Homo sapiens: one gene and its partners. The protein of the gene in region 1 purifies or fractionates together with the protein of each later gene. This does not show direct contact. Each region holds a gene or a part of one and is shown on either strand. Other genes may lie near its edges. The genes, in order: LRCH3, VCPIP1, SUGT1 and TMOD3.

The links.
Region 2: the proteins of LRCH3 (region 1) and VCPIP1 purify together in Homo sapiens (co-immunoprecipitation; 3 studies listed by BioGRID and IntAct, with this or other methods). This does not show direct contact.
Region 3: the proteins of LRCH3 (region 1) and SUGT1 purify together in Homo sapiens (co-immunoprecipitation; 4 studies listed by BioGRID and IntAct, with this or other methods). This does not show direct contact.
Region 4: the proteins of LRCH3 (region 1) and TMOD3 purify together in Homo sapiens (affinity purification with mass spectrometry; 2 studies listed by BioGRID and IntAct, with this or other methods). This does not show direct contact.

The regions. Positions count from the first base shown.
Region 1 is NC_000003.12:197,829,248-197,836,276, reverse strand, and holds part of LRCH3 (DISP complex protein LRCH3), read right to left. Parts: intron 6,714-7,029; coding exon 6,604-6,713; intron 5,513-6,603; exon of another isoform or gene 5,508-5,512; coding exon 5,414-5,507; exon of another isoform or gene 5,380-5,413; intron 5,241-5,379; exon of another isoform or gene 5,054-5,240; intron 5,003-5,053; exon of another isoform or gene 4,923-5,002; intron 4,081-4,922; coding exon 3,960-4,080; intron 1,750-3,959; exon of another isoform or gene 1,652-1,749; intron 604-1,651; coding exon 455-603; intron 1-454. UniProt on the Homo sapiens protein: As part of the DISP complex, may regulate the association of septins with actin and thereby regulate the actin cytoskeleton.
Region 2 is NC_000008.11:66,657,203-66,664,231, forward strand, and holds part of VCPIP1 (deubiquitinating protein VCPIP1), read right to left. Parts: intron 1-7,029. UniProt on the Homo sapiens protein: Deubiquitinating enzyme involved in DNA repair and reassembly of the Golgi apparatus and the endoplasmic reticulum following mitosis. Necessary for VCP-mediated reassembly of Golgi stacks after mitosis.
Region 3 is NC_000013.11:52,655,836-52,662,864, reverse strand, and holds part of SUGT1 (protein SGT1 homolog), read right to left. Parts: intron 5,334-7,029; coding exon 5,243-5,333; intron 4,767-5,242; exon of another isoform or gene 4,658-4,766; coding exon of another isoform or gene 4,639-4,657; intron 4,467-4,638; coding exon 4,397-4,466; intron 3,687-4,396; coding exon 3,616-3,686; intron 1,391-3,615; coding exon of another isoform or gene 1,295-1,390; intron 217-1,294; coding exon 163-216; intron 1-162. UniProt on the Homo sapiens protein: May play a role in ubiquitination and subsequent proteasomal degradation of target proteins.
Region 4 is NC_000015.10:51,909,653-51,916,254, reverse strand, and holds the end of TMOD3 (tropomodulin-3), read right to left. Parts: 3' UTR 530-6,602; downstream 1-529. UniProt on the Homo sapiens protein: Blocks the elongation and depolymerization of the actin filaments at the pointed end. The Tmod/TM complex contributes to the formation of the short actin protofilament, which in turn defines the geometry of the membrane skeleton.

The DNA of each region.
Region 1 (7,029 bases):
AATATAATTCAGCATATTATAAAAATTCTATGGTTAAGTCTGCATGTTGCCACAAAAGTCAACTTTTTGGTTTAACTGTTAATTAACTACTGACCAAACTATGATTTATCAGTTAGTAACAATAAAAAAGCAATAAAAACAACAATGAAAAGCATCACTGTATTTTTCTTTGTACTTTCTTCCAAGGCCTTAACAGTACCTAGACTTCTTTTATTCCTCCTGCAAAATTCTGAAATCTTTCTTCTTGTTTGAAAAATAAACCTAAAGCCTACTTGAGGCTGCTGTCTGAGTTTTCTGAATAAATCTGAAAAACTCAGGACTGAAATCAGAAGTGAACATAATGAAAACAATTAGGCTTCAGTCAACAAATCACTGATATAACAAAACTTTATACTATTATGAATTATTTTTATGAAGGGATAGCAACATATTTAGGCTTCAATCTGTGTACTACCTCATGAGAGATTCGCCGCTGTTCAATATACGCCATAAACTGTGAACTAAGGCTGTCTGGGTCTGGTCCCTTGGGCTGTCTCACCTCGGCCTCCTCTTCCTCTGCGGTGCAGCTGTCTATGTAGTCAATCTGATCCAGATCATGTTCCACTGTATACACCACACACACACCCACACACACACACACACCAGAAAAAAACATTCAAATTAGATAGCCAATAAAAGACATTTACTTATTTCCTTTTCCCCATGATTTTCTATTTTGAAAGTGGGAGGGATGATAAAAACTTTAAATTACTTAAGTCTTTTTTTTTTTTTTTTTTTTTACCCATTTTATGTCCAAGGTTGGTGGCTCACGCCTGTAATCCCAGCACTTTGGGAGGTGGAGGTGGTGAGTGGATCACCTGAAGTCAGGAGTTCAAGGCAAGCCTGACCAATATGCTGAAATCCCGTCTCTACTAAAAATACAAAAATTAGCTGGGCTTAGTGGCACACGCCTGTAGTCCCAGCTACTCGGGAGGCTGAGACAAGAGAATTGCTTGAACCCGGGAGACAGAAGTTACGGTGAGCCAAGACCGTACCACTGCACTCCAGCTTGGGTGACATAGCAAGACTCCGTCTCAAAAACAAAAAAAAAATTAAATTAATTTTACTTATATTTTATTTTGTTTTGTTTTTTTGAGACAGGGTCTCCCTTTGTCATCCAGGCTGCAGTGCAGTGGTGCAATCTTGGCTCACTGCAACCTCTGCTTCTCACGTTCAAGCGATTCTCCTGCCTCAGCCTCCCAAGTAGCTGGGATTACAGGTGTGCACCACCACGCCCGGCTAACTTTTGTATTTTTAGTAGAGACGGGGTTTCACCATGTTGGCCAGGCTGGTCTCCAACTCCTGGGCTCAAGCGATCCGCCCACTGTGGCCACCCAAAGTGCTGGGATTACAGGCATCAGCCAACGTGCCTGGCACACAAGTGTTTATTATTTAGTTCATGGCCACTCACAAAAATAGGCTCCAGAAAACCTTAGTCCTAGTTCACTAAAGAATGTAGCAATTGATGATAATTATTGAAATAGAGACCTCTACCATTTTTCTTTGGACAGCTCCTTACTGTTTTAAACACAGTAGTTTCAGTTTGTGAGACAAAGAGCGAAGACCAATTTTTAAAGACTGAAAGGTGCATCTTTGTGTTTTCGTGTTTTAGGTCTGGGGCTTAATATCTCCGTGAGGAGATGGCAGGTGGAAAACCGAACACAGTCAACTCAAGAGAAAGTCAAAGGCCACACACAAAAAAGAGAAAAGGTAGGAGTAAACTGGACTCGAGAAAGAAAGAGTTTCTGACTACTATCTCCCTTCCTGTAATTGTTGTCAATTAAGCAGAAACAAAAAAGATCAGAACAAAGATTGTCCTATTTGGAAAACTATCTGCTAGAGGTCAGCAATGTAGATATTTTATAATAGTTTATGGATGGGAAGGGATTCATTTGAGGAGTTTCTTCTTCTCAAAATGCTTTAGGGTGAGGAGACGTATATAAATTATTTTTAGCCACATCTTGTTCATCTGCTAAGTTTGGGAATCCCCCATTATTTTTAAGTTTAAAAGTAATGAAACAACTACTTAAAATGGCACACTAGAAAAAAAAACTTCCTACTAAGATAGTTTTTCCAGAGATGCATTAAACCACAACCTGTTACTTCATGACGTTCTACAGGCTGCCTAAAAATCGCAGTTGCTGGAACAGTGAACTTGGGGAAGCCTATTTCTCAATTTAGTCTTCTGACTCAATTATTGACAAATAATTCTGTGACTACAATTAATATAAAATTGAATTTTGAGTTATTAGAGTTTTATTAATAGCTAAAAAAGATGAAAAGGTTCTAAGTTTACATCCACATTAGAAACCAGGTACATAAATGCATTTTTTAAATGTGCTAAAACTTTTCTGACTAAATTAATGGTTTATATTAAGACGATTTCTGAAGAAAGTAACTTTACTTCTTCATCCAATCTAGACCAGTGTGGCCAAAGAGAAAAATAACACAAGCCATGAAGGTGAACCACATATGTCGTTTGAAATTTTCTAGTAGCCATATTTTTTAAAGTAAAAGAGGCAGCATTAACTTTAATATTTTACATTGTCTAATATGTCTAAATATCACTTCAACATATAATCAATGCAAAATATTACTATTTTACACGCTTTTTTTCAAAGGAAGTCTTCAAAATCTGATGTGTATTTTATACTTACAATACATATCAATTTGGAAAAACCACATTTCTGATTTTTTTTCGAGATACAGTCTCATTCTGTCACCCAGGCTGGAGTGCAGTGGCGTGATCTTGGCTCACTGCAACCTCCACCTCCCGAGTTCAAGTGATTCTCCTGCCTCAGCCTCCCGAGTAGCTGGGATTACAGGCATATGCCACTATGCCCTGCTTTTTTTTTTTTTTTTTTTTTTTTTTCGGTTTTTAGTAGAGATGGGGTTTCACCATGTTGGCCAGGCTGGTCTCAAACTCTTGACCTCAAGTGATCCACCCGCCTCAACCTCCCAAAGTGTTGGGATTACAGGCGTGAGCCACCACGCCCAGCCTAAAAAAACACATTTCAAATACTCAATAATTATCACATGTGGCTAGTGGCTATCATACCGGCACAGATCTCAACATTATTTTAAGTCTTAAATAAACTGATGGAGAAAGATACCTCATATGAGAGAAACACTTAAAAGACAACTACTGAAATGTAAATGAAATGGTAACGACAGGAGTAAAGAATCTAAGATGGTAAGGAAAAGGACAGCAAACCATTTAATTGAAATCGTCACTGAGAAATGAAAGCTCTCCTCGGATAAGCAATAGGTTTCTGGAAAATCAAAGTTATTTTCCATTATAACTGGCCCTCAAAATTTAAATATGAAATTAAACATTAAACATTAAATTCAAACCAATTCAAGCAATACAGAATTGAATGCGAAAATCAAGAGTCTGCTTCGGAAGTATAAGCAAGTAGAGAGAGTGCTGCTTGCTAATGAACTACAAATTTTTTAATGTCAGAATAAGGAAAACTGTGATTCAGATGACTTTGAAGAGCATCTGACAATTCCAGGTGAAGAAAAGGTAAACACTGAAAAAAAAAAAAAAAAGGACTAAATTCCTAAAAGAGATCAAATAATGACCACAGCAAGAATCTTAAAAAGGGAGAATGTTACTTCAAAAGGTCGTGATTAAATCCAGATTAACAAAGATCTGCTCCAGGTGTACTGTCTCTAATAAAGTTTCCTCCCAAAATAAAAACAAGGGAGAAATAGTGTATTTTAACTCTGACTGAAACCAGAAATCATAGTTTCATCCCAATGGAAAATAGTATTTTTCAATCATATATGAAAAGAAGTCTTTAAAAGAAGAGTGAAGAAGCTATAGATACACCAACAAAAGGAGTGGGTATGAAAAAGACAACTTTAAAAAGTTAAATGGTTGCAAACACTTTAGCTGTCACCGGAATTATGTTTACCTCCGCCGTTTGTTACTACCAAACTGCCGCGGTTCTCTTGGTACTGGCTTTCTCTTCGTAGTCTTTGTTCTTTAGTAATCTCTGCTACTCGAAGAGGCAGATCTGAAAATTCATCTGTAGGCTTAAAAAAGAAGCAGAAACATTAAAAACAATCATTTTAGAGCCTGGCAGATCATGCCTGTAATCCATGCGCTTTGGGAGACCAAAGCAGGAGGATCACTTGAGGCCAGGAGTAAATTAGCTAGATGTGCTCACACATGCCTGTAATCCTAATACTTGGGATGTTGAGGCGAGACGATCGCTTCAGCCCAGGAGTTCGAGGCTGCAATGAGACAGGATTCCACCACTGCACTCCAGCCTGTGCGACAAAGCGAGATCCTATTTCAAAAAAATAAAAATCTGGTCTGGAGTGGTGGCTGATGCCTATAATCCCAACACTTTGGGAGACCAAGATGGGAATGACAAGCCCAGGAGTTTGAGACTAGCCTGGGCAATATAGGGAGAGCATGTCTCTAAAAAAAAATTTTTTTTAATTAGCCAGGCATGGTGGCATAAGCCTGTAGTCCCAGCTACTCAGGAGGTTTAGGTGGGAGGACTGCTTGAGCCATGGTCGTGCCACTGCACTCCAGCCTGGGTGAAAGAGCAAGACTCTGTCTCAAAAAATATAAAAGATTCATGACTCCATAAATTATATATATATAGATTTAAAATATCTACATATATATCTGTATTGATACAGCCACATTTATGAACCCACCCACCAAGACATACAAACACAAGTAATTCCAAATTTCAAATGGGATGTGGTCTAAAATTAATTTGGTTTCAATTCACAGTAAAACAATGTTATAAATAGTAGGTTATCAGTCTTGCTAACAAAAGTTTACTTAATAACTTAATGCATAGCTAAAATATTACACATTAGTAATTTTTATTTATTTTTTTACTTTTTTTCTTCTGTAGACCTCTGTGGACACAGTAATTTTTAAGAGCAGAAAACATAATATCAATAATTTAAAAACGAGAAAAACGACAGAATTAGCCAGGAAGTTATTCCTCTTGAGCACATGAATACTCTTTACTAAGGTCCTTGTCTCTACCCATCAGCCGAAAGTCCTACTTGTTTTCTCACCATCTAGCACCTCTGCTCGAGATTACCCCCCACCTCAGATTGTAGGCTTCAGTTTCAACTGGCTCAGCTCCTGTTTGCCTTTCTATGATATGAAACTATTTCCATGAGGCAATGAGGAAACAGGCGGAAATCCACGTGACAGAAAGCCGGTAAGGACGCAGAATGCCAATTCTGCTGGAGAGGGTGGGAATCTTGCCTCCACCTTGACTTTTCTGTATTTTATGTAGTGAGAAACTGAATCCAGTTAAGACGCTTTTCATTTTCATCATTCTGTTTTCTCTTAATCAGGTGTTATAACACACGGAACATAAAAAACACTTACTTCATTCCCTGACCATCTCTTATCACCACTGTCCACACTATTGAAGCCTGAATCAAGGGCTCCATAAGGGCGACTTGAGTACAGTTCTTCATGGCTGCCGAAAAGAGACTCTGTTACTGCAAAGTTTGTTATTTTAACAATTAAAATTTGAAATTAAACAGATCAATTTTCTAAAAAACAAGAAATGTGGCAGTCACTTAACTATTAGAACTAAATGGGCTTTAATTTTTTAATATGAAAAATTCCAAATAGAAACAAAGCAAACAGAATAGCATGAGACCTCATGTACTCATTATTATCCAGCTTCAAAACAATCACACCTCTGCAATTCTTGTTCGTCCAATGAGGCGAGTTTACTAGGACTGTGCTTTTAAGCAAAATTTGAGAGGTTCAAGAGAAGGCCTGAGAGGTTCTCTTTTGAGTAAAGTCCATAAACATTACTTCACTTTGACTGAAACATCTATCCTGCTTGTTTAAAGGCCTAAGAATTTAATTCTTGCTACTTAAGACTGCTCCATACTCAGGAGGCTGAGGTGGGAGGAATGCTTGAGCTCAGGAGTTTGAGACCAGGCTGGGCAACATAGTAAGACCTTGTTTCAAAAAAAAGAGATTGTTCCAGATGGTTGGGACTGCCAAGCAGATGACCTTATAAGTCACAGGCTGTGTAGCTGAGGGACTCATAGATTAAAAGATCCTGAAGTGATGTTAATGGTCAACAAATCCAACTCTTGACTCCTTGTAGAAAAAATGAAACTCAAAAAGTAGGAATGACTTGCCTTCGGCTAGTTACCTCAGCAGCAGAGCTAAAGTTAGCGTTCAAGTCACTCAGACCAGTAGTTTTCAACTGGAGGGCCCCAAGGTGACATTTGGAGACTTTGCGAGGGTACTACTGGCATCTATCTAATGGGCAGACACCAAGGATGCTGGTAAATGTCTTACAATGTACAGGACAGCCCATCACAACAAAGAATTATCTGATCTAAAATGTCAACAGTGCCAAGGTTGAGAAACCCTTAGAACTAGACTTTGCCAGATCTAGGTAATCAACTTTACAATACAAGCATTCTGAGAATAACAGTGTTAAAACAGGTTATTTCCCTTTAGTCAAACATTCAGGCAAATTTAAGTATCCATTTTATTTGATTCTCTGTACAAAAAATATGATAGATAAAGGGACAGAATATACTTACCAGGAGCCAAAACCCAACGGTCTCCTATCATAATCCGGCAGATCTGGAGCAATCTTACAAGCTTGTATGTTCAGGTATTTAAATATGTGGACTTTGCCTTTTATACATATCTAAATAAAGTCACACAGATGTAGCCAAATTATTACTCATCTGAAGTATGCTCCTTTTTATCATATCAACATTTTATGTAACATACATTGGGAAAGGGAGGCATTTCTATCAAGTACATACAGTAATATTTAAAAACTAATAAATTATATTATTTGGTTAAGTGTTATTTTAGGTGTTTAACTGGTAAATATGTTTTCATTTTCTAGTCACTAATACATTTCAGTAATATATAAATAAATAACTTTTGATTATACTGTTCAAATACCAAGTAAACTTATCACACTGACTAGTTTGCATAGTCAGAGATTTAAAGCA
Region 2 (7,029 bases), on another chromosome or scaffold:
CCAAAATGTATTTTTAAAGCCCCAAAAGAAACACCCAAAACGAACTCTGAACTCAACTATTTATGACCATAAAATGAAGTACTTGTTTATTTAAATTTAAAATTTAAAGAAACAATTCAAAATTTTTTAATAATTTGAATAAATGGTTCCAAATATAAAGTAGGAACACAGGACTGTTTCAACTAGACAGAATTCCAAAGGTAAAGGTATTCATTTGCTGAAAGAATTGTTGGCATCTCTCTACCCTTCCTGACGTAATCCTCACGTTTAAAAGTTTATCTACCCTATTGATAGTCAAAATGGTTTATAAAAAAGGCATATCTGTTTCTTGCCTGAAATTCAGTCCCCTTAACGGTATATAGTCACACAACTTTAGTGTCACCAGCAGCATTAATGAATATTTTTATCATACACAGACATGCACACAAACTCAACAGTGTTTAAATGTGTACAGAGTCTGAAAGGACACATCCCAATTTATTAATAATGATTTTATCTGGGGAGTACAAATGTTAAGAACTACCATATTTTATAGGTACTTGAATTATTTGAATTTTAAACATTATATTGTAATTGAAAAAATATTTAAAATAAAAGTGATCAAAGTAGTTGGAACAGAATCTATTATTATCTAGATTTCCTTTTCTATCTAGAAAGGAATAACATCAATATTTGACTTAATTTTCAAAGTATAATTATATAAAATCACCATTTACAATATATACATTTATCTTAAGATACACCTATGCATTATTTTTTATTCAACTTTATAACTGCTCTCCCATTACAAGTATGCTACATATAAATCAACAGAAGGGCTATCAGAAGGCATAGAAAGAATAATAATATGCAGCCAGACACGGTGGCTCACGCCTGTAATCCCAGCACTTTGGGAGGCCCAGGTGGGCGGATCACGAGGTCAGGAGTTCGAGACCAGCCCAGCCAACATGGTGAAACCCCGTCTCTACTAAAAATACAAAAATTAGCCAGGTGTTGTGGCAGGCGCCTGTAATTCCAGCTACTCGGGAGGCTGAGGCAGGAGAATCGCTTGAAACTGGGAGGCAGAGGTTGCAGTGAGCCGAGATTGCACCACTGCACTCCAGCCTGAGCGACAGAGCAAGGCTCCATCTTGGGGAAAAAAAAAAAAAAAAAGAAGAATATGCATAAGTACTATCTAGATTTGAAACTGCCCTTTACCCAACATTTGAAAAAAAAAAAGGTGCAATAATAATATTCAGTTGTCACCTAAAAAATAAGTGTCTCAGTCCCAAGCGTGATTCTGGAAAATTCTTTTTTTCTTTTTTTGAGACAGAGTCTCACTCTGTCACCAGGCTGGAGTGCAATGGCATGATCTTGGCTCACTACAACCTCCGCCTCCTGGGTTCAAGTGATTCTCCTGCCTCAACCTCCTGAGTAGCTGGGATTACAGGCGAGCGCCATCATGCCCGGCTAATTTTTGTATTTTTAGTAGAGACGGGGTTTCACCATCTTGGCCAGCCTGGTCTCAAACTCCTGACCTCATGATCCACCCGCCTCAGCCTCCCAAAATGCTGGATTAAATGCGTGAGCCACCGCACCCAGCCGATTCTGGAAAATTCTAAGGCATTTACGACATCAAGAGGTATTATGAAATTACAAAATATTGTGTATTTTAAATATATATATACGTTAAAAAGCCACACAATTCTTTCAGGAACAGAGAAAGTATATCAAAATGAAACAAGTTTCTCAACTCCTGAAAGGTTGGTACACTTTGTAGTAAAGCAAGGAAGTGTCATGTAGCCTAATTTCATTTAAGTAACTCCAAACTGACAAATTCTGTTCTTCACCTAAATCTGTCCTTACCTCTAGGAAAACAAAAAAACAAACAAAACTAGAAACTTAATGAAATATAACACTAAGAAAAAATAAATTAGCCCAAATATTTATGGTGGATAATGTACCACCTATCCTGTCTACCATGAAAGAAAACCTACAAATAACTGATCTACAAGAAATTTTTTTTTTTTTTTTGGAAAGAGTGTTGCTCTGTTGCCCAGACTGGAGTGCAGTGGCGCAATCTTGGCTCACTGCAACCGCACCAGGTCTACAAGAAATCTGAATGACATATTTTGCAAAGCCAGAGTTAGTCTTTTAAGTATTATATAAATAATGAAGATGACTGTCTGCAAAAAATTAAGTTCAATTACTTTGTGGTCTGGATAAAAGAGATTAAAAATGTAAAATATTATGGGTAAAATATTGTTATTCCATTTTATAGTTCCTAAGATTCAAAGTTACTAGGTTCCATGAATGACTTGTACTAAGCCAAAGACTAATACACCTACTTATTGTTTTATTAATATAAGTAATAGACGATCTAATCAATGAATATCCTACTTAAAAATGAAAGAAAAAGCTCATGTCCCTGGCTATCATGCAGTCAGCCCATTTAGTGAAAACATACAGGCCGGGTGCAGTGGCTCACGCCTGTAATCCTAGCACTTTGGGAAGCCGAGGCGGTGGATTGTCTGAGCTCAGGAGTTCGAGACCAGCATGGGCAACGTGGCGAAACCCCATCTCTACTAAAAATACAAAAAATTAGCTGGGCGTGGTGGTGCGCACCTGTAGTCCCAGCTACTTGAGAGGTTGAGAATCACTTGGACCCAGGAAGCAGAGGTTGCAGTGAGCTGGGATCACACCACTGCACTCCAGGCTGGGCGACAATCTGTCTCCAGAAAAAAAAAAGAAAGAAAATATACAATCCCCATGTATATATTTGATTCTTAATCAAATGAGAAGTTCTAAAATGCTGTGTTGGTCCTATTTGGGGATTTTATAATTTTTATGTATTTAGAAAATAAAGCTGGAGATCTGCTGATGAAAGCTAAAAAGTATGGAACTCCTTCAGCTGAAAGCCTGCAGGTAAGTTAATGGAGGGCAAGCACTGACTTTCATTTATCTTTGTACACTCAACATACATACAAGTTCATAGTATACACTGATTTTGCTGAAATAATTGCATTCATTAATCCAACAAGCATTTACTTGGTACCTACTATGTGCCAGGCCCTGAACTAGGAAATAAGGTATTGATTAGTGAAGAAAATAGGGTTCAGTCTCTGTCTTGATGGACTTTATAATATAGTGGGGGAGGCAAACAAATAATTAAACCAACAAATAAGATTATTAAAAATTGTGATAGATGCCGTGAGGGACATCAACAGGGTACACTGATAGAGGGAACCTACTTAGAATGGTCAGCAAAGTTTTCTCAAACCCTTACAGGGTGGTGGTATTTAAGCCTAAACTTAAACGAGAAAGAACCAGCTATTTGAACAGCATAAAGTCTGATGAGCTATATTCTAAACTAACATAACACAGCTTAGCTCACATTTGGTAATTCACAAAGTAATTTCTGCACTTTGAAATCTGTAATCTTCTAAACAAGCTCTGTCATTTTCTAGTCCTCTCCAATCTAAACATCAACAGTTCCCCAGTACTCTTTACATATGGTTAGTATTTATCCCCAAACTGAATTTTGTAGGAACATCTTTTTTTTTAAATTAAGAATATCTTCGGCCAGGCGCAGTGGCTCATGCCTGTAATCCCAGCACTTTGGGAGGCCGAGGAGGGCGGATCCCCTGAGGTCGGGAGTTCAAGACCAGCCTGACCAACATGGAGAAACTCTCTCTCTATTAAAATACAAAAATTAGCTGGGTGTGGTGGCACGTGCTTGTAATCCCAGCTACTTGGGAGGCTGAGGCACGACAATTGCTTGAACCCAGGAGGCAGAGGTTGCAGTGAGCCGAGATCGCACCACTGCACTCCAGCCTGGCGACACTGCGAGACTCTGTCTCAAAAAAAAAATCTTCTACATAATTCAAATACAGTCATAAGCGAACTAGAGGAAGAAAACTAAGATTTATAAGGGACTAATATAATACAGGCTATGCACTTAATACTTCAATTTAAAGCAGAAAGTATCTCAAGTGATATCATTACAAAAGTAACACAATGCTCTCTTTTACACCCAAATTTTGTGTTGGTAGTGGAAGAAGTTTTAAAGAAATTTGTGGGTTTATACAGGCATAAATGCTGGATATGAAGAGGGAAGGGATCAGAATAGAAAGACATTATCTTGGTGAACTCATTGCAGTCCATACTCTAGGTTCTCTCAGATATTCAGGTCCAAGAACCTCCAACCAAACTCAGAAAGTATTTATACACCAGAATTATATTTGATTAATTTTCATTATGAAATATATTATCAACCAGGCACAGTGACTCACGCCTGTAATCCCAGCACTTTGGGAGGCCGAGGCGGGCGGTTCATGAGATCAGAAGATTGAGACCATCCCAGCTAACACGGTGAAACCCTGTCTCTACTAAAAATACAAAAAAATTAGCCAGGTGTGGTGGCACATGCCTGTAATCCCAGCTACTCAGGAGGCTGAGGCAGGAGAATCATTTGAACCCAGGTAGCAGAGGTTGCAATGAGCTGAGATCGCGCCACTGCATTCCAGCCTGGGCGACAGAGTGAGACTCTGTCTCAAAAATCTATATATAATCATACCGATCAGATTTTTTTTTTTTTTTTGAGATACAGTCTTGTTCTGTCGCCCAGGATGGAGTGCAGTGGCACGATCTCGGCTCACTGCAACCTCTGCCTCCCCGGTTCACAAGATTCTCCTGCCTCAGCCTCCTGACAAGCTGGGACTACAGGCTCCTGCCACCACACCCGGCTTATTTTTTTTTTGTATTTTTAGTAGAAACAGGGTTTCACCATCTTAGCCAGGATGGTCTCGAACTCCTGACCTCGTGATCTGCCCGCCTCAGCCTCCCAAAGTGCTGGGATTACAGGCATGAGCCACCGTGACTGGCTCTGATCATATTTTTAAGACTACTGATCATAATCCTGCCCATGTCCGTTTATTAGTCTACAATGGAGAATACAGCTTTCAAAGTGAACACGTCCTTATCTGCACTGTCACCTGTACATCAAAACTTGTTATCAGGAAGCTAAATAAGTGTTACGAATAGATGCCTGATGAACATGGAAATCAGGCAAAGGGATAGAGATGTTTCAGCCAGGCCACAGTCAGGATTGTTCAAATATTCCTACCCCTCGACAGAGATTACCTTTCTAGTTACCAGAATTTTCATGAACCCCAGATGATGTACCTTTTTCCTTTGTACAGCAGTATATGAACATTGCCGAATTCTGCTTTTCACTTTTTTCAATGTTCAGTGCTGACTGACCATCCATTCCATTTCTGCAGATACAGCCTTTCTTTAGCTGTGTTAATGTCATCTATTTAATTCAATTAAAAAACATTTCAGAGTGCATACTACCTGCTGAGCACTATTATCAGGTTCTGTGCATACAAGGATAAAGGTAAGAGCCACATTCTCAAGAGTCCATCTTCTATTGAGGAAGATCTTCTCTTTCCTGTTTTTGACCTGGGAGATTGAAGGTCTTTTATTTATTTACTTATTCATTTATTTATTTATTTTTTGAGACAGAGTCTCGCTCTGTCGCCAGGCTGGAGTGCCGTGGCGCGATCTAGGCTCACCGCAACCTCCAACTCCGGGGTTGAAGCGATTCTCCTGCCTCAGCCTCCAGAGTATCTGGGATTACAGTCACAGGCCACCTAGGATTTGTATTTAAGTACACTAGCATTCGTATTTAAGTGACCTTGATCACAAGGTCAGGAGATCAGGACCATCCTGGTCAACAAGTTGAAACCCCGTCTCTACTAAAAATACAAAAATTAGCTGGGCATGGAGGCGTGGGCCTGTAGTCCCAGCTACTTGGGAGGCTGAGGCAGGAGAATTGCTTGAACCCGGGAGGTGGAGTTTGCAGTGAGCCGAGATGGCGCCACTGCACTCCAGCCTGGAGACAGAGCAAGACTCCATCTCAAAAAAAAAAGAAAAAAAAAAAAGAAATATATAAAGTGCGTAGGACAGTTCCTGACATACTCCCCAATTCAATTACTATGTCTGGCAAACTAAAATCAACAATTCCGGGTTCTAAATTTGTGCAGGGTTTTTAGATCCCCTATTTACTACTCCCCCAGATAAGCCAGGAGTAGTATTCATTTTGATAGATTAAGGCCCAAATCACTGCCATATAGTACTATCAGAAAACAGAATCAAAACCCAGATGACTTTTCTCGTTGAAAGCTTTAATCTCAGCAAAAATAAAACCCTTCCAGTAACTAACACATTTAAATTTTACTTCATACTTTAAGACTTAGTAAAGCATACTAAGTTATTTCAAAACAAAGACTAAGCAAATATAGACACTGTAAAAAGTACACCATTGAACAGTATCCCAAATCATCTAAAGCTTTAAATTACACATTTGGTTAATATATTTTTCTTTAATTTATGCTGATTAAAAACAAATACTTCTTTACACCATTACCATCCATCTCTGTTTATGTTTCTCATGAACTACAACTTATAACAGTTCATTATAATTGATGGCAAAGACTTGAGTAGTGAAATTACTTAAATACAAATCCTAGTGTACTTACATACAAATCCTAGTGTATGAGAAAGAAAAATGTGATGAACTGGGAAAGGAAGAAAATGAAATGTAAGAGACTACTAGGTGGGAGTGCAGTGAGAATATAAACACCAGAAACTGCAATTCATCAAACAGGAAGTGCTGAAATCACATGACATACAGGAAAATAAAAATTAAAAATAAATGAAAAAGGGGCAAGGTAGGCAGGATCAATAGAGCCTACCAAAAAATTTAAAACGCTTTAAATAAATACAAGTCTGTTTTTTAAAAAGCAATTGCAAGAATAAGATATATTTAAATAATCTGTTGACTATTATTGAGGGACTACCTTAACTTTCTATTTTCCTAATAGTTACTCAATAATCCTATTAACATCTATCAACTGTTCAAAATACTAAAAATAATTCTCTCCTGAAATATATAATTAAAAACTTACAATGGCTACAGATTTCTTTTCCCCCAAAGATAACAGGAAAACTCAGTGTATTATATTTACAATTAAGATATACCATCAG
Region 3 (7,029 bases), on another chromosome or scaffold:
AAGCTATGCAAAAACCAGTGTATCTTTGGAAGTCCACATCTAAGGAAACGTATACTATTTAAAAGAAATTATAAAGATAAAAACAAATTTGTTTAAACCAAAAAAATTTCAGATGTTTACTTCTTTTTAAATTGAAACAAATACCAAGGGAGACCCACATACCATTCTGAGCTTCTTGACACCTTTTAATCCAGACACTGAAATTAGCATCTGCACCTAGAAAGAAAAAACTGACTATAACATCACTCATCTGCACAACCTATAAATCAACAAATACTTACTGAATACCTACTACATCCCAGGCAGTGTTCTAGGCACTGGGGAGTCGGCAGCGAACAAAACCTGTCTTAACAGACCTTATCACCAACTCTACTATAGTTATAAATATACCAATAGTTTAACATTTAGTTGTTAATCATGAAACATTTTGATTTTTTAAAAATTTTAACTACAGTCAACCTTAATTTCACAGATACAAATAATCTGCATTTCCCCCAATCCCGCTGCTCTTAGAGAAGCTTCCTCACACACAGAACAAAATCAGATGTAAATCAGACTCCCAATATGCCATCAGTTAGGGTGGGGAGGAGGCTTGGTAACTGGGAGCTGAGTTGAGGTTCAAAAGCCGTTCCCAGCCCCAGCTTGCTCTTCAATGCAGATACCTATTCAGTCCACTATTCTCTCAGTGGCTTTATCTGTTACCATGCCTTTCCTACCAACACCAAGCATCTTTAAATTCCGTGAAGTTTTGTCCTATCTCCAAGTTACATGGCAGTCGAGAGGCTATAGGTGATGTATTATATATTTATAGATAACAGTGTAAATGTATGCATAAACAAATTATTCACTTCTGGAGACACAGAACAATGATTACATTTAAACAGTCACAGTGCATAGTAAGATATGTTAAAAGTATTAAAAGTACTCTAAATAAGAGCTTATTAATTCAAGTTAACTGCAGACAAGATAAATTTGAAAATCTTAAATTAAAAATTTCTTAACAAAAATTTCTACTTTACTAATTTATAAAAGAAATCCAACTATACCAGCATTAATAAAAAATTTAAATACACTCTCACACACACTGTATTCTAGAGAACTATTGTATCAAAATCTATTATATCAAAAAGATTTGAGTAACCTATTATTTTAAGTAATCAGTAACTAAAACCAAGCAATTTATCACACAAAGAGGGGAAAAGGTAACAATTCTTTACCCTGTCTGATAAAAATAGAAGCCTAAAAGTTTAACTTAACTTTTTCCCAGATTTTGGCCGGGCATGGTGGCTCATACCTGTAATCCCAGCACTTTGGGAGTCCAAGGCAGGTGGATCACTTGAGGTCAAGAGTTGGAGACCAGCCTGGCCAACACGATGAAACCCCGTCTCTACTAAAAATACAAAAATTAGCCAGGCTTGGTGGTGCATGCCTGTAGTCCCAGCTGCTCAGGAGGTTGAGGCAGGAGAATCACCTGAACTTGAGAGACAGAGAACTGCACTATGGCCTGGACAACACAGTGAGACTCAGTCTCAAAAAAAGAAACAAACAAACAAACAAACAAAAACAAAAAAAAACCCCAAAAAACAACAACAAAAAAAGTTTCCTGGATTTAAAGACAAATTTATTTTTAAGTAAAATATCCTCAACAGCAATTTTACCAAACAGGTCTTCCTCTGAAGGCCACCTCTGAAATAACTAAAGAATAAATGTCAATGGCATGATATTAAGATATTACTCAAGAAAATAATCTAGGGGCCAGACGCAGTGGCTCATGCCTGTAACCCCAGCACTTTCAGAGGCCGAGGCAGGCAGAACGCTTGAGTCCAGGAGTTCAAGACCAGCCTGGGCAACATGGCAAATCCCCATCTCTGCAAAAAATAAAATGCAAAAATTAGTCAGGTGTGGTGGCATGTGCCTGTAGCCCCAGTTACTCAGGAGGCTGAGGTGGGAGGATCACTTGAGCCCAAGAGGTGGAGGCTGCAGTGACCCAAGATCGCACCACTGCACTCCAGCCTGGGCGACAGAGCGAGACCTTCTCTCGCTAAAAAAAGAAAGAAAAATGAAAATGTAGAGAATGGTATGACTCATGTTTCTTCAGGATTTTCACATTAGGTACCAAGGCACTACATAACTTCACTCTAGAATTTGCTAAGAGTGCAGATGTCCTGTTTGCTGACTGAATAGGCCTACTATTCACATACCAAAACTGGGATAAGCAAGTTTGAGAATAAGCCTTATCACCCAGACCTCTCCTTTTTTAATTTGTAGCTTCCATTTGCATAATCAGTGCTAAAATCCTTTTTTCTGAATAGGTACACAACAGAAAGGCAAACATTCAAAACAGTACAGAGTAAGAATGTAACATAAAATACTAAGAGTGAAGTTTCTTAATTTCAGCACTACTGACATTTTGGACCATATACTTCTTTGTTAGGCAGAACTGTCCTGGGCATTATAGAATATTTAGTAGCACCCCTGGTTTATACTCATTAGATGTCAGTAGCACAACCCCCATCCACCATTCATGATTATCAAAAATCTCTTCAGACATTGCATAAAGTTTCCTGGGAAGCAAAACCGTTTCCAGTTAAGAACCACTTCTTTAGAGAACTGTGATAAAACTCTATCATAACATAAAGATAAAATGATAATACAAGTAGGATTATGTAGTCTCCAATTTTCTGAAATTACTCACAACCTCTTAGTATTTTTCAGATTTAAAAATTCTTGGCTCTCGGCTGGGTGCAGTGGCTCATGCCTGTAATCCCAGCACTTTGGGAGGCCGAGGAGGGTGGATCACAAGGTCAGGAGATTGAGACCATCCTGGCTAACATGGTGAAACCCCATCTCTACTAAAAATACAAAAAAATTGGCCGGGCGTGGTGGTGGTCGCCTGTAGTCCCAGCTACTCGGGGGGCTGAGGCAGAAGAATGGCGTGAACCCGGGAGGCAGAGCTTGCAGTGAGTCGAGATCGCGCCACTGCACTCCAGCCTGGGCGACAGAGTGAGACTCCGTCTCAAAAAAAAAAAAAAAAAAAAAAAAAAAAAAAATATATATATATATATATATATATATTCTTGACTCTCACAATTTCTATATGTCTAGATATCCACACCACTGTGATACTTTTCATATATTCCCTCAAGAATATAACATTAAAAGTCACAATACTCTCAAAACTGTGTTTCTTCTGTACCCTCTCATAATTTACCCAAACGTACACTTCACTTCTCCATAAAAACCTTTAATGTTAAGATTTCACATCTCAGCAATCTGAATAATTTAAAATGAACAGACTTCTGACCAAGGCAAATTAAACTTTCACTTCTCCATTAGAAAAAAACAAAGCCAGACTAAACAGAGAGAGCATGTTAGGTGTTTCCATAGTTTTTTTTACTTCTAATGGTGAAGTTCATCTATGATTTAAATGCCAAAAGGCTAATTTAATCGATTTTAAGTGATCTCATATCTGCAATCAATATGAAATATAATTTAGATGAGAAAAACAGGTATTGGGTTTCTACAATTAACTTGAAATTAACATTACCAAAATTCAGCTTTGGTATTTAAGACAGAAATAGATAAGTTTATTAAAGTATAATTTTTAATACTTACTATCTAATTTTTGTCCTTCTGTAAAAGTTTCTAGGGCAGCAGCATAGTTTTTTTCATGGTATTCACATATTCTGCATGAATATATTTAAAACAAATTAAGACACACAAAAAATCTGGAAAATACCTTCTTTCTAAATAAAAAACTTAGTATTTTCTACTGTTGAAAGAAAAAATTTATTTTAAGTGTATGTTAATAAACCTAGAGACTTTCTAATATACTGTTAAGATCTAGTACAATTCCTACTAAAATTCAATTTTAGAACTCACTTCAGAAGGAATCTGACTTTAATTGTACAGACTTGCTTACTCAAAAATATAATTATACAAAGGAATTAAAGAAGTTTCTTAAAGAATAGTTATACTTATCAACAGAAACAAGATGGGATATAAAGTATACAGATATAGCGCTTTCATAGCATTAAATGTAGCCTATTCAGCTTTGCTGAATAGGATGTTGTCCAGTCAATTAAATATAGTAAATTCCAAAAGATTGAAAAAAAAAAAAAAAAAAGCAATGTGAAATCTATCAGTTTCATCTATACCTTGCAAATACTTCAATCATCACTATTTTAAAATTTACTAAGTACAGATCTCCTATCACATACTTTGGTTAACAAAATAATAGAACTATAAGTTGTATTTAAAATTGAATCATATCTCTGCTATATAATGTATAAATACAGAATTTTACAACTTATATAAAGCTTGCAATGAACTCATTCAACAAATTAAATACCTACTATCTATACCAAGCTCAACAAGAAGAGTAGCTACTGCATACCCTTTTCTCAGCATAGCAGTGGAATTATTTGGATTGAGTTCTAGAGACTTCTTTGCATCAGCAACAGCAACTGTGTAGAAAAAGACGGGTTTTTAGTCAGTTATTTATAGATCCTAGCAAATACACACAACATATGAATCAGTTTTAGATTTCTAAGTTTTCAAGTTGGTAGAAATGCCAAATGGTTTTAAATTAGGAAAAGCTAATACAAGATAGAATTCAAATAAATATTACTCTTGTACCTTCCTTTTGGCTTAACATTTAGCTTCCTTCTTAAAGCTCTTCAATGAATACAGCTGTGTCACAAAATTCACCTCCTTGTCTCATTAACATTTTCTATGTAATTTTACTCAAGGTATTCAGTTTTTCCCTATTCAGAAGGTACAAAATACAGAAATACATTACTTTTTAAATACAGGTGGTCTTGTTATGTTGCCCAGGCTGGTCTTGAACTCCTGGGCTCAAATGATCCTCCTGCTTTGGTCTCCCAAAGTGTTGGGATTACAGGCGTGAGCCACCATGCCTGGCCACATTCTTTTTTATAAAAAAAATTTAAACGAGCATTTCATTTTAATAGTCTGTCAAATAGTAAATGTGATGCTATTTTTTATCAGCATACCCAATAACTATGAATGAAATCTGTATACATTCTCCACCCAATGAAGGAAAAAGCGACATCCATAAAATTTAAATGGGTGTTGCTCAACATGTCTGTCACATTTGAGCTACTTTACCTTGTATAAAAGACCAATTTAAAAATTCTCAAAGACAACTTTTAATTTGTCATGGGTAAAATGTATAAGTAACTTATTAAAAGGGGGCAATATACTTTATAAGAAACGTTACCACAGTAATTCCCAAGAAGAATGTGACAATAAGCTCTTTGACAATAATACTGTGCATCATCTGGTTTCTGTTCCAAAGCCTTAGTCAGCTCCTACAAAAACAAACATGTGGAGCGTCAGTAAAAGTTTGTAAGAAGCCATCAAATTCTAATTAAAACATAATTTTTAATCAAGTAACTTATTGTCAGAAGCTATTTGGAGGAAAGATAACACGGATATAATATTGGAGTTTTTCCTTATAAAAGGATCAATATCTCCCCCACTTCTCTTGCCCCTCCTCCCAAAAGTAGGCAATCTAATGTAGCATCTCTGTACCGTAAAGCTTTTAGTTCCTGGTCTATAGAACTTAATAAATGATCATTATTATCAGCTCATATATTCTGAAGAGTTTAATTGTTACACATTGACCATTACAGATTTCCTCCTACTAATTTGAAGAAGATTCAAACACCATATAGAATTTGAGATTCCTAGAAAATGTTAAGCTGTGCAATAAAAAAAGACCAGAAGTTAAATCTAGCACTCAGGGAGGTTAAGACAATCAATACATACACAATCAAGTGTACCTGGCCCTCTCCTAGCCTCTAACAATAGCACACAACTCTAATAAAACCCAACTAAATATTCTGTTCAAAGCCCAGATACAATCTAATAGATGGCTATGTCAACTACCAAGAGTTAACATTAGAGATTGAAACTTTTTTAACTTGTGCAGTCACAACATATAGGTGTGGTAGCTGGAAAAATAATGATGTAAGAGATTACACAATTAGGGAGATCAAAGACAAGTGCAGGAACACTTTTATTTTCTGCCAACTGCCTACAAACTCTAGGGATTTGGTAGTTTTCTTAAATGGTAAAATTATTTCAAGAGCCACATGTATCATTGACTTTGCTTTAACCTAGTAGTGTGACTCTCAGAAAGCAACATATACAGATGCTCCTCAACTCACATGGGGTTACAGTCAATCAACAGAAAGTAAGGCTCAAATCAAGAGAGCAAAGAAGCTGTAAGATGCTACTTTAAGGGCCTCACTTTGTAGCTTGCAGGCAGTTATAAGGAATTTGGACCTTACGTTTGATGGAAAGCCATGGAAAGTTCACTGTTAGTAAGGGGAACATGGTCCAATTTACTTTTTTTTAATGTCATTCTGGCTGCAGTATGGTAAATACATTATCAAATCAAGACTGGAAACGGAGACTTCTTAGGAAACTATTACATTAAGTCTAGGCTAGAAAAGGATGTTAGCCACAGAGGTGATGAAAAGAAATACGATTAAGTTGGAACATATTAGAAGCAGAGAGACTTGCTAATGGGTGAACATGTGGGATAAGAGAAACTGAAGATGACTCCAGGGTGTTGGGCTTGCCTAGATCTGTATGTGACATCCAGTAATCACTCAATGAAAAGTATTGATTTTTCTTCTTGCAGACTTTTTTCAGCCTTTTCCCCAGTCTCTACTTTGACTGCATCTCCTTTGCCATAGAATACAAAAATATTTGCCTCTCTAGTCTTAATCTTCTCAAAGTCACTAATAACCCCTTATAAAATCCAACTGATTCCTATCTGACTTGATCTCTCTGTGGCCCTTGACAATAATAACCAGGCCTTTCAGCTTACCATTCTGCTGCCTCTTAAAAACTAATGTTCTCCTTGGGCTCAGTACTTAAGACTTCTTCCCCTCTACAAACATTCTTTGATTCCTTAACTACTGGGGGGCTTCACATATGTGTTGATGCATGCTGATGACTCAAGTCTATCTTGAGCCTAGACAGTGGTCCTGGGCA
Region 4 (6,602 bases), on another chromosome or scaffold:
TTCAACTATTATAACTAATTTTATATGATTCAACTTAATATGGTGGTATTTAGCCAGGTCAGATTGTCCTAACAAGATACCATAGACTGGGTGGCTTAAATAACAGAAATTTATTGCTTACGTTCCTAGAGGCTGGGACGTCCGAGATCATGGTTTGGTTCCTGGTGAGGGTTCCCTTCCTGGCTTGCAGACAGCTGCTGTTTTGCTGTATCTTCACATGATGGAGAGAGTCTCCTGTCTCTTTGTATAAGAACACAAATGCCATCATAAGGGGACCAACCTTGTGACCCTATCTAGCCTTAATTACCTTCCAAAGGCCCCATCTCCAAATACCATCACATTGGAGGTTAGGGCTTCAACATGTGAATTTGGGGTGGGGGGGCGGGTGTGGATACAAACATTCAGTCCATAACAGGTAGGACTGAATAACTCAGGGAAACTGATAAACTTTTTCTTGAAGAAGGATGTAAGGAATGAATTTTAGAACTTAGGAACTAAAGGGATTATGTGCTTTTTCAAAAAGTCCAAGTTTACAGAATATTTGATAAACTTTATTGAAACGATTTATCCCAGTATATATTGGTAAGTTCTAAATGCTTCCAGTACATAGTCTTCAAAAGAAACTTCACTGTGCTGTTATGAATTTGGATAATATTTTGTATTATTTAAATACCAGTGTTAAAATTCATTGCTTTTATACTTATAAAAATGGAAAAATAGGGCAATTACAATGTTGGATATTTTAGCATTAGAAAAAAACGTAAATACCTGATTTCATGTGACAATGAATGACATTCAAATGATTGTTAGAAAGGTAATTTTCAAGCTTTTAAATGTAACTAAAACCAAATATAATAATTCATCCAAAAAACTGAAAAAAAGACATTTGAAATTACAAAAATTTTTATGTTATACGTGTATATACATTTGAAAAAACAATTCTTAAATGGATTGATCTGAAAATTTGAAACCACTGAATCAAAAGCTTATCTTTCTGAGTAGAGGTGAAATTTAAACTTCTAAAAACTGCTATATACACCCACCAAGAAGCACCAATAATTCATTCTTAAACCTTACTTTCTGAATGTATAGACTATAATATTTGAAACATTTTAGGCCAATTAATTGCTTTGCATCAATTAAAACATACTGAGTGTAGAAAAGGGAGTAAAACCTCATATATATAGATTCTAAGAGGTGTCTGTCTTACGAATGTAATAATTTGGGCTGGGCGCGGTGGCAAACACCTGTAATCCCAGCACTTTGGGAGGCCGAGGCGGGTGGATTACGAGGTCAGGAGTTCGAGACCAGCCTGGCCAAGATGGTGAAACTCCGTCTCTACTGAAAATACAAAAATTAGTCAGGCGTGGTGGCGGGCACCTGTAGTCCCAGCTACCCAGGAGGCTGAGGCAGGAAAATCATCTGAACCCAGGAGGCGGAGGTTGCAGTGAGCTGAGATCGCACCATTGCGCTCCAGCCTGGGCGACAAGAGTGAACCTCCATCTTAAAAAAAAAAAAGAACTTAATAATTTGTTACAGCTATGTTAGCAAAACACTGCTGGTGGTATTTCTTAATACATATATTTTTTTGAGATGGAGTCTCACTCTGTCACCCAGGCTGGAGTGCAATGGCACAATCTCGGCTCACTGCAACTTCTGCCTCCCAGGTTCAAGTGATTCTCCTGCCTTAGGCTCCCAAGTAGCTAGAATTACAGGTGCGCATCACCACGCCCAACTAATTTTTTGTATTTTTAGTAGAGATGGGGTTTCACCATGTTGGCCAGACTGGTCTCGTACTCCTGACCTCAAGTGATCCGCCCACCTCAGCCTCCACAGTGCTGGGATTACAAGTGTGAGCCACTGCACCCGGCCATTACAATCTATTTTTATCTAGCCTCTAGAGCAGGTGTCCTAAGTAAAAGACAAAAACAACAACAAAAAAACCCATTTTTTTGTTTTGTTTTGTTTTTTGAGACAGTCTCACTCTTGTTACCCAGGCTGGAATGCAGTGGCATGATCAAAGCTCACTGCTGCTTCAACCTCCCAGGCTCAAGCAATTCTCCCACTTTAGACTCCTAAGTAGCTGGTACTATAGGTGTCTGGCTAATTTTTAAATTTTTTGTAAAGATGGGGTCTTGCTATGTTGTCCATGGTAGTCTCAAACTCCTGGTCTCAAGTAATCCTCCCTGCTTGGTCTCCCAAAGTACTATGAGTATAGCTCTTTTTTTTTTTTTTTTTTTGAGATAAGAGTTTCACTCTCATTGCCCAGGCTAGAGTACAGCAGCATGATCTCATCTTACTGCAACCTCCACCTCCTAGGCTCAAGCGGTTCTGCTGCCTCAGTCTTCCGAGTAGATGGGACTACAGGCATGCGCCACCGCACCCAGCTAATTTTTGTACTTTTTGTAGATATGGGGTTTCACCATGTTACGCAGGTTGGTCTCAAACTCCTGAGCTCAAGTGATCCGTCGGCCTCGGCTTTCCAAAGTGCTAGGATTACAGGCATAAGCCACAGTACTTGGCCAAAATTCTTTATGTGTTAATGAAGGCTTTCCAAAATACTTAGTTATGGCTTAAAATAGTTTACTTAGCCATGTCTTTTTTCTAGGTTGACCTTTCTGAATGATCAGACTGCAAGATAGAGTTTAAAATTAATAAAATATGTTTTATTATCAAATTTCTAATTCATTCATTTTTTATAGGGAAGAACTTATAGAACTGAATTATAGTGGAGAAAAATCAATACAGGTTGAGTATCCCTTATCCAACATGCTGGGACCATTAAGTGTTTCAGATTTCAAATTATTTTGGATTTTGGAATACTGGGCATTACACCAGTTCAGCATCCCTAATCTGAAAATCTGAAATTCTAAATGCTCCAATAAGCATTTCCTTTGAACACTATGTTAGTACTCAAAAAGTTTTCAATTAGGGATGTTCAATCTGTAGATCTAAGAATGACCAAATTAAAATATAAGAATAAGGCTGAGTGTGGTGGCTCAAGCCTGTAATCCCAGCACTTTGGGAGGCCGAGGCGAGTGGATCACCTGAGGTCACTTTGAGAACAGCCCGGCCAACATGGTGAAACCCCGTCTCTATTAAAAATACAAAAAGTTATCCGGGCGTGGTGGCGGACGCCTGTAATCCCAGCTACTTGGGAGGCTGAGGCAGGAGAATCACTTGAATCTGGGAGGTGGAAGCTGCAGTGAGCTGAGATCGCACCACTGCACTCCAGCCTGGATGACAGAGTGAGACTTGGTCTCAAAAAAGAATATAAAAATCTTTGCCTCTGAATACTATTTTCTCAATTTAAAAATAATTAGTGAAGCGTTTCTTTGATTTGTTGGTAAGCAAATCTTAGGGTAAGAAATATCCAGAAACATTAATGATCAGTGAGAGCTGATGGAGAGGATAATTTTACAGATACTTAGACCCCAAGAACTCATAGCCCTTAACTGAGAGCAGCAACCCGAGTTGTCTCTAGTGCATCCATATGTTTGCTTCTCTTGGGTGACATGGGTCAATACGTTCAAAGTGCAGTAACACTGTAGAATGAGTAAATTTGGGCAGTACTAAACTTGCAAAGAATGGAAGTGACTAAGGACTCCAGAGAAAGCATGATCCTTGCATCTGCTGGGAGGTTAACAGTGGTTCCTAGTTTTTTAGGGAAAAAGTGAGGCAGCCCTGGGAACACAGACCCTAAAATGTAAGATTTTATAAAACTTCATAAATGTTGTCATCTTATTTTAATGACAGCAAGAGTTAAATATAACGTACAATATGATATGAGTAACATTTTATAAAAAAAAAAAAATTTTTTTTTTTTTGAGACGGAGTTTCACTCTTGTTGCCCATGCTGGAGTGCAATGGCGCGACCTCAGCTAACTGCAACCTCCGCCTCCCGAGTTCTAGTGATTCTCCTGCCTCAGCCTCCCGAGTAGCTGAGATCACAGGTGTGTGCCACCACGCCTGGCTAATTTTGTATTTTTAGTAGAGACAGGGTTTCTCCATGTTGGTCAGGCTGGTCTCGAACTCCTGACCTCAGGTGATCCGCCCACCTCGGCCTCCCAAAGTGCTAGGATTACAGGCGTGAGCCACCGCACCCGGCCCAAAACATTTTTTAAAATAATTTTTATTATGTCATGGAATCCTCTTTTTAAACAAAAACACAACAGATACTCGGTCAACTGGAAAACAATTTATAGAATTCTATTTACATGTAACTTCTCCAGAGCGAATATCTTATACAAAGCAAGGATGTGGGTTATTTCAATCAAATAACATGAAGTCGCAATTAAATGACCAAGCTAACTCTCCTTGAAGTCTCTAACCATCTGCTAATTTATTTAATACAAAATGCTTATTTGGTCTTTTAAATGACAGGCAACTTTGAAAGTGTATTTCACCTATTCTTGAGAATTCTACTAGGCTTTAGCTACAAGAATATAGCACCAAAATCCATTTTAATAGTATTAATATTTGCCACTAATATTGAGTTTTTAATACATACAATTTCATGTAGGAATACTGGAAAAATTCAGACAAATATGAGTATAACATTTTATAAAATGGGTAATAAAAAGCTTTTTTAAAAATAGCAATTTAAAAACACAAAGAATATTCTTTTAAATAACCACATAAGCTGGTTAGACTACAAAACCTAAGGTCTCAGAAAACCTTTGGCTTAAAAATTAAGACTATTGCAAAACCCTAATCTATTTATTATAAAATTTTAGAGCAATTTAGAAATACTGAAAGTTACTAAGAGGTGCCAGATTTTTAAAGATTGAAGTAAACCCGATTTTTCTCCCTTATAATTTTGGAAAGATTTTGTAAATTCAATTGGATGAATGTTCATATTTAATGTCACTTATGAAGAAATCATTTCTTTCAGTTATACAATGAACTACTATAATGCAGAATTGAAATGGTACAAGCAAAATACTCAACTTCATACTTTGATAAATAATATATGAAAAAGATATTACCCATAAGTATGATGCAAAATTTTAGGTAGAGTCCCACTTACCTATATTAAAAACAAAAACAAAAACAAAACTTAAGGGATGAAGGGGGAACTATTTATCAACTAATTGACTTACAGGACAATGCAAACGAGGATGCCTGACTGAAAGTCTAGGTGACCAATTCTTTCTGGTAGCCTGAGATGCCTGCTCCATGCCTGACTCCCAATCTTGCTGGAACTGTGCAGTCTCTATAAAATCAAGTACAATCAAAAAGCTGCATATGCGGGGAAAAAAAAAGAGAGGAGAAGAGAGGGAGGGAGAGAAATAGGTAAATAGAGAAGGTAGGAAGGGAGAGGGATGGAGGCAAGGGAGGCAAGAAAGCAAGCAAGTGAGCCTTGCTAACTTAGAAAAATATCAGTGGCCTTTAACTGACAGGGAATAGTGCAAAGTTAACCTTTGGCCCCTATAAAACATTGGATACTGATTTAAAAAACAAAACAAAACAAAACCAAAAAACCAAAACAAACCAAAACAAAAAAAAAAAAAGAGAAACACCACAGTTCTTATGAGGGAAGCTTAGCCTGTTAAGAAGGCTTATTACCATAGCACACAAGAAGCTGCCTTGCTTATTAGATAAACTGTCCAGCCCAAGCCAAAGTAGCAGACATATTGCAATTCAATTTCAAAAAGTTTGTTTGTTTGTTTGTTTTTTGAGACAGAGTCTTGCTTTGTCACCCAGACTGCAGTGCAGTGGTACGATCTCAGCTCACTGCAATCTCCATCTCCCAGGTTCAAGCAATTCTCCTGCCTCAGCCTCCTGAGTAGCTGGGATTACAGGTGTGCACCACCACACCCGGCTACTTTTTTGATTTTTAGTAGAGACAGGGTTTCACCATGTTGGCCAGGCTGGTCTTGAACTCCTGACCTTAAGTGATCCACCCACTTTGGCTTCCCAAAAGTGCTGGGATTACAGGCGTGAGCCACTGCGCCCGGCCCAAAAAGTTTAAAAAAAATTAATAATGATTAGCCACCTTGCCTTCCTCAGAAATGAGACTTTTCCCTCCAGAAAAATCTCTGTAAATGATACAGCCAGGCCTGAATTTTGAGGCCAGGGCTACCTCAGATTCCATTCCTCCCTGTTTTCTGCAGCTGTAAATGCCTCTGCCATCTCCTGCTCCAGGGGCTGCCCTGAGACAGAACATGAATACAAGTCCAGACCCTCTACCCAGCATCAGCTCTGCAGTCTCAAATCAGTCTCCCGACCACAGTACTCTATTCAATTGTTCACCTTAATACTTTGAGCAAGAAAGACTGCTTTTATTATAGAAATGACTTTTATAAATATTGATAAAAGTATAAGATGAAAGGAAGCATATACTAAAAATTAGATTTATGAAGAATAGCAGTTTTCCTTCTTGGTTGGAAGATTTGTAGCAGTGATTAAATACTGTTTATGCAATTCTGCACTGCACATAGGAACTTCTTCGGATATGGTGTAACACCAAGTAATTTACATACATGCCAGCTTCCAACTGACTTACAGTAACCATCAGTTTAAATGACTGTTTTGCAAGTGCCTCATACTGGAAATCTATCATATTTATTATCTTTGATTTCATTGTTTAACAGTTTTCT